2 linked regions of the Homo sapiens genome follow. The protein of the gene in region 2 interacts with the protein of the main gene of each other region in a pairwise test. Each region holds a gene or a part of one and is shown on either strand. Other genes may lie near its edges.

The links.
Region 1: the proteins of ANAPC4 (region 2) and KIF18A interact in binary tests that used the Homo sapiens proteins (3 or more experiments, as listed by UniProt).

What each region holds. Positions count from the first base shown.
Region 1 is NC_000011.10:28,020,876-28,024,708, reverse strand, and holds part of KIF18A (kinesin-like protein KIF18A), read left to right. Parts: intron 1-858; coding exon 859-968; intron 969-3,426; coding exon 3,427-3,509; 3' UTR 3,510-3,833.
Region 2 is NC_000004.12:25,390,708-25,394,540, reverse strand, and holds part of ANAPC4 (anaphase-promoting complex subunit 4), read right to left. Parts: intron 3,631-3,833; coding exon 3,526-3,630; intron 2,204-3,525; coding exon 2,120-2,203; intron 737-2,119; coding exon 650-736; intron 232-649; coding exon 167-231; intron 1-166. UniProt on the Homo sapiens protein: Component of the anaphase promoting complex/cyclosome (APC/C), a cell cycle-regulated E3 ubiquitin ligase that controls progression through mitosis and the G1 phase of the cell cycle.

The sequences.
Region 1 (3,833 bases), on a different chromosome or scaffold from region 2:
TCAGGACCCAGATCAAATTCATTGCATCCACAAAATTTCCATTATTCTTTCTTACTCTACACTCAAGAATCTATAGCTCCTTGTATTATGGAAACCTTGGCACTATATTTTTACTTTACCTTATATTATTTCATGTATTTATCTTATTTTTTTCTCATCTCCACTGTATGTCTATTCTATAAGTTTTTAGGACAGGGATTTTTGTGCCTTGTTTACTTGTATATCATGTAACACAAGGCCATAATAGGTGTTTACTAATATGGCAACTCAAATTGAGTAAGAAAGTTGAACCATCAGCAGTGTAAGACTGATTAAATTTTTGAAGCTAGAGCAAATGAAAACAGGTCATTCTTTTTATTTCAGTTTCTGTGATTGTAATAATTAGAGATTTTTATTGTTACCCTGCTTTCATTTTAAAACAAGGTTTTTCAAACAATCTCACTTGTTTATACCTTTCACATTAGGATTCTTGGTCCAAATTTGTAACATGAGCTTAGTTTTTTTTTTTTTTTTTTTTAACCTCTTGTGACTATGTGCTACTGATCTCTACATTTTGAATAATAGTGCTTACTTATCTGCCAGCAAAGCACCCTGGAATATTCTGCTACAGAATTGTAACATACACCTACAATCATAACATTCAATTTGAATAAAAATATAAAATATCCAATTTAAAATCACACACAGCTAAATTTCTCTGTGGGCCAAAAATGTATTTAGTACCTCCACTTCTGTGAGATTTCACAACTTAATATTTTTGTGTTTTATTTCTTTAATCATTGTCGCATGTACAATATGTATTAGAACTTTGAGGTATAAAAAAAATGCTTAACTAAATTAAAAACTTTTCCTCTCAAGTTCTACATCAAACAGTTCGTTAACTGCAGACGTAAATTCTGGATTTGCCAAACGTGTTCGACAAGATAATTCAAGTGAGAAGCACTTACAAGAAAACAAACCAACAATGGGTATGTCTCAGCTTTTAATTTGATATTTAATGGTATGACTCTGTAACACACATATAGTACTTTACGTTTTTTATTGTGTTTTCATAAGAATCTCCCTTTATTCATCACCTTTACTATGTGGTAGAACAAGTATGATTATCCACATATTATAGATAAGGAAACTTTAAAACACAAAAGCATTTACCCAAGATCACACAGATATTATATTGGTAGAGCCAAAACTCAAGAACCAGATCTTAAAACTCTACTTTCTACACCCTTTTAGTTATCCCTACTGTCTCATAATAATTGAAATAATTGGCTAAATGTATTACTTAATGTTACTAATTAAGTGTATTTTGCAGATAAACTATACCCACTTTAAATTTTTCTCTTAGCGTAATATTTTGAATAATTTGGCCTCTAACTCAATGTGTAACTACTACACAGATTCCAGTCTGTATCTAGTTACAATCATATTGTAACTCCCATTGGCAAGTTGGAAAAGATACTGATGGATCTTTCCCATCAGTATGAAAGATACTACATTCCATCAACCGCATATGGGAGTGACATGAGTTTATGGTAACAAAACCACTTCAGTTAAACTAGTGGTGTATCATGCCAGCCAGTTTTCAGGCCCCAACATCTAGACCTCTGTCTCTGATACTACAGTTCCTAAGACTTCATTCAGAAACTATTTATTCACTAGGCATTTACCATGTCCTGTGATGAATACAGAGAGCAGTAAGACACAGTTTGATTGTTCTCTATAGGAACTGATAATTATAGCAAATGCAATTTAAAGGTGTCTCATGATATAATTTTTCTAAGGATAACATGAAAGCTATTGTTAGTTTTTTTCTGTCGATGCCCTTTGATTAGAGTAATATAAAATTCCTCAGTAACTTTGTCAAACTATATTGGTAAATGCCTGCTTCCTGTAGTAGCCAGTGTTTACCTTAAGTTCAATGGAAATTGAAGCATCAGACAGCAAATTGAAACATCAGACAGTAAGGTAGTAAAGTACAAAATTTACCTTGATCATTTGGTTTGACATGTTGTATTTAATAATGCTTAAAAATGTGTATCTGTAGTTAGTTTAGGTGTGTACTGCCCCACTGATCTTCTTAAAAAGTTCTTCAAGAATCATAATTCTACAGCCAAATAATAAATTTATAAAAACTCTCAAATTGGCCGGGCGCCGTGGCTCACGCCTGTAATCCCAGCACTTTGGGAGGCTGAGGCGGGTGGATCACGAGGTCAGGAGATCGAGACCATCCTGGCTAACATGGTGAAACCCCGTCTCTACCAAAAAAATTTTAAAAAATTAGCCGGGCATGGTGGCAGGCGGCTGTAGTCCCAGCTACTCGGGAAGCTGAGGCAGGAGAATGGCGTGAACCTGGGAGGCGGAGCTTGCAGTGAGCCGAGATCGCACCACTGCACTCCAGCCTGGGCGACTGAGCAAAACTCCGTCTCAAAAAAAAAAAAAACTCAAATCATAGAACTTGGCTTTTTCTAATATGCTTATTATCTGAAGATACAAATTCATCAAATATTTCATGTATAAAGAGATGTGAGTAAAAATATCTACTATGGGGAAAAAAAAGTGGGAGATGATAATAAACCACAATGCTTGCCAAAGAGGTATTAGTTTGTAAGGAAAGATATTTTATATACATTATAATGTTCAAGTGAAAAATGTATTAAACCAGTTTTCTAACTAACAATGTACAAATAAAGAAACATAGGACCATCAGTAGGGAAAAAGGCAACTCCTGTTAACTTAGCAGTTAGAGAAATAACAGAGAGTGTTAAGGGAATATGTCCCTCTAAAACTAAAACCTAATATGGCCAACAAAGTGGATAAGCAATTAAACTAATCCTGAAAAAAGTCAATGGCACCCTGTTGTAACAACACTTTGTTGAGTAGAAAATGACGGTGAAAGCTAATGAAGAACCAGAAGAATGGGCATAAATAGAACATACTTGAGAGGTGGCAGTAAAAGAAAAAAGAGCTATAGGATTAAGATCAGCCCTTTAGGAAGTACTAGATGCAAATGATAATTTTAAAATTGGAAAAATATGGAAGTTTAAATCCCTGGGGAAATATAATCCAAGGAATGAGAAAAAATGGTGATACAACAAAGAAAATGAAGAAATGCTTGTAGAAATGGTCTTTTATTAGTCAGAAAGAAAGAAAATGAACATAGTATTTAATTCAGCGACTTCACCCGATGTCTGTGTATGTGCACGCACTCACTGAAACTTTAGTTTGCAATATGAATTTGAACAGCTTTTAAACCAAAGGTATTAATGTCTCTTTGTTGTTGTTATATTTTAAATTATGTTAACTAACAACTATGAATTTCAAGAGTAAATTTTTCTTTCTATGGTCATAATTTTTATAAGTTGAACGATGAAAACTTTTTGAATGATATTTATGCCATATTTATGCATCTTTTTATTTCTTCTCTAGAACATAAAAGAAACATCTGTAAAATAAATCCAAGCATGGTTAGAAAATTTGGAAGAAATATTTCAAAAGGAAATCTAAGATAAATCACTTCAAAACCAAGCAAAATGAAGTTGATCAAATCTGCTTTTCAAAGTTTATCAATACCCTTTCAAAAATATATTTAAAATCTTTGAAAGAAGACCCATCTTAAAGCTAAGTTTACCCAAGTACTTTCAGCAAGCAGAAAAATGAAACTCTTTGTTTTCTTCTTTTGTGTTCTAAAAAAATAAAATTTCAAAAGAAAAGGTTGTCTTTTAAGTTTTTTAAATATTTGTTGCCTTTTAAAATCCCTGAGTGTAAGTTACCATGGTGGCAGCTTAGTTTTACTATGCCACAACAAGTTGACTAGGACATTTTAGTAAATGGTA
Region 2 (3,833 bases):
ATGTAACATCACATATACCCCGTAAGTATGTAACACATTATGTATCAATTAAAATATTATGTATCAATTAAAAAAATCACATACTATGACTATAAACTACTTTTCAAATAAATAATTACTGTTAAAAAAGAAGCAAAAACAGGAGCACCTAATCTGAGTTTATTACCTTGCTTTCCCCCATAATAGCAAGTGCATGAACTCATCTTGCACTGATGTGGTTGTGTTCTTTTCCTGGAAAAAAGTGAAAAAAAAATTGTGATATATGTATTTCTTAAATTATAAGCATATTTATTCAAAATTATAGGAGCATGACTCCCTTTCCTTGCCTTAGACTTCCATCAAATCCATAAAGTGATCATCTGAACATCAGTGACTAGAAGATAGCCAATCAGCTGTTCTAACACCTGCCCTTATTGCCAAAGCCCCACCAGCTCCACTTCACAATCCTGTCCCCACTTAAGTTGTATCAATGGGAAAAGAGCCCTTTTGGCAAATCTGAGGAAGCAGTTTGAAGTCAGACGAAGCCATTTGAAAGAAATTATGATCTTAGCCTTTTATGAATCAAACTGATTTTTCTCATGTACCTCAAGGTAAAGACATACATCATGCATTCTTTAACTCTCTCCATGGGAAACTTCAGCTGCTTTACCTGCACAAACTTGGTGAGACGAGAATCCATCTGCATTAGTATTTCTTCCCATGCTTCACACATACATGTTAGTGACAAATTTATATACTATTAGCAAAAAAGAAAAATTGAAATGGTAAAAAATATTTAAACCAACTTGCTATCTAAATAATATGTGCTTATGATCAAGTGTCTCAAAGAAATCTAGAATTTACTTTCAATCACTGTTTTATTTTTATTATTTATTTATCGAGACAGAGTCTTGCTCTGTCGTCCAGGCTGGAGTGCAGTGACGCCATCTTGGCTCACTGCAACCTCTGCCTCCCAGGTTCAAGCGATTCTCCTGCCTCAGCCTCCCAAGTAGCTGGTATTATATGCGTGCGTCACCATGCCCAGCTAATTTTTGTATTTTTAGTAGAGACGGGGCTTTACCATGTTGGCCAGGCTGGTCTCGAACTCCAAGCCTCAAGTGATCCACCTGCCTCAGCCTCCCAAAGTGCTGGGATTATAGGTGTGCGCCACTGTGCCCAGCCTCAATCACTCTTTTAACTCAGTTAAGATGGAGAAAAAGACAACAGCTTGGTCATCACTTAACTACGAAACATTCCATTGATTCTTAGAATTTCATAATAAAACATTCTTAAATTTTTATCTGGTGAAACAAATATCTCCAAGCTTTTTATATAAGATATGTCTTATCTACACTAACTGTCAAAATACTGGTTTGGTCAATTATTCAATTTTAAAAAGATACTGATCTCTAGAAACCTTTAATATCAAATAAATTAATGACTGTGGTAGAATGAAAAACATGGCCACAATCTTTTGTAGCCCCTCCAGTCAGATGCAGAGTCCATTTCTTCAGCCCTTGAGTCTCGCTTTGACTAACGGAATGCAGCAGAAATAACACTGTTGACTCCAGGGCCTCAAAAGTCTTTGTACACTTCCACTTGCACCCTCGATGCCCCGTTACCACCACCATGTGGACAAGCCTGTGCTGGCTCGCTGGAGTATGAAGGATGTGGAGTAGAGACAAGGAATCACAGCCAAGGGACACATACCAGCTGGCATGACCAAGTCTAGTCAAGATCAGCTGAACCTTCTCCAGGTCACCCAAACATCTTGGCTAAGCTGAGCCTAAATCACCAACCTACAGAATTGGGAGGTAATTTGGGGTGGGTTTATTATGAACAAATGTAAACTCATGTGAAGACTGTTTTTCCCACAATACTTTATAATGTAAATGGTATTTTATTTATGGGAGTATTTTAAAAGATTTAAACTCTTTTGGAGGTGGAAAATAGGGTGCGGTGAAAGTAGGTTCTCAATTAAATGTCCTTTTCCTGCTTTAATGGACCTTATAAGATCATCTATCAGACTAGATACCTCTACTTCAGAAAGCTTTACAAAACAAAATTTTGAAGCTTTTTATTTACAGAACTTTAGAAGCCGATAATAAATATTCACATAAAACAAGCTCTAAATAAATACCTGTAACAGAGCTGAAATATGAGTAAACTTTCTGGCCATCCGAGTTACTTCAGGTAAGAAAGAGTACAACAGATTAGTTTCAAGCTGTAAAATCAAAAGAGTAAAGTGAGTCATCATCAGATGCACTTGCTGCAAAGTCTGTAATTTAGAGTGTGGGTCAAACTACGTATCAGAAAGACTATGTCAGAATTGTGCCCTCTTTGAGCAGAACGGTTTGGAAACAGCACATAGCCTTAGGATCTCCTAACCTACACATAACCATACACAAATCACTCTCTCTGGGTTATCAACCCCTCCTGTGTAGATAGAATAAATGTAATATAACCTATTTTGAAACAGTATTACAAAGAAATGTTTAAATCACAAATATATGTAAAAACTTAAAGGAAGTATAAGGAATTAAAGGCTACTGATAAATATTGGGAAAATATCTATCAATGGTATATGAATTGTATCTTAATAAATTTGTCATTAAAAATGATCTGTTACCAACTTCACAGTAGTAGTGAATCATTTTATTATAATCCAAATGCAATCCTGGTGATCATAGTTTCACATAACCTTAAGAAGATGAGCAAATATGAACAACCATTACCATAGTGAACAGTAAACCAAGAGTTCTCTGATGCTCTGAATACAAAGAGAATGTTGGAAGACATCACACACATTGCATCTTGCATCTTTTTTGTTCTACTTTTGTTTGAGAGTTCACACATACTTAAGTGGCTGGGATATTTAAGATGAAAATTTTCGATTTCTTGGCAAGGCTATGATCTAAATACTCTATGGGAGCCCAGTTAGCTTCCTTAATCTACAATGCAGACAGCACGCAATAAAGCATTTTCCCAATATTAAGTGATCATTTTACACAAGATGCAATGTGCTAGTTAAGAGCACAGATTATGCAGCCAGATTGTCTAGCATCACTTTCCCATCCTGTGACATCAAGCAAGTTCTGAAGTATTTGTGTGTCCATGTACTTACCTATAAAATGGGGATAATAACAGTATCTGCCTATTATGATGCTGTGAAGATTCAAATCAACTGTTCTGAAGCATTCAGCATATGGCACATATTAAACAATCAATAAATATTAACCTTTGTTATTATCAGGGACAGAGTCCTAAGCAAACACTTGGTACAAAGTCAAACTGGAATAGCAACAAATTAATATGGTCATTAATAGACCACCAAAACACTTTTTATGAAAACTGTATTGGAGCATGGGAAGAATAATATGGTATTCACTATAATAACACTCAGTATATTAGGATGTAGAAATTCCAAGTCGATTTTTTTGCATTATTTTAATGATCATTACAATACAGTGAGATGTGGATAAAAACCTATATAAAACCTGTTAAATACATATTTACTCTCTACCGTTATCAAGTTCCAATACTCACCTGAAAGTATGAAACTTCTGAAGCACCATTGGTAGAGACTTCTGTGACCACTGATAATGATTTCAAATCACTTGATAAACATAATGCAAGACAAGTACCAGCAATCTGTAAAAGAGTCAAACCCCTTAGTATATTTAGTATCACTGCTAGGTTGAAGCTGATTATCATGCAGAAAGCAAAAACTCAGAGCTTTAAAAAGCAGAAACAAATTCCCAGCTCCAGCCACACACATGTAGCAGATGAAGGTAGGTGTCTGCCTGCATGGACCTTTCTAGTTACAAGGCCACAAAAATAACCTGGTTCCCTCA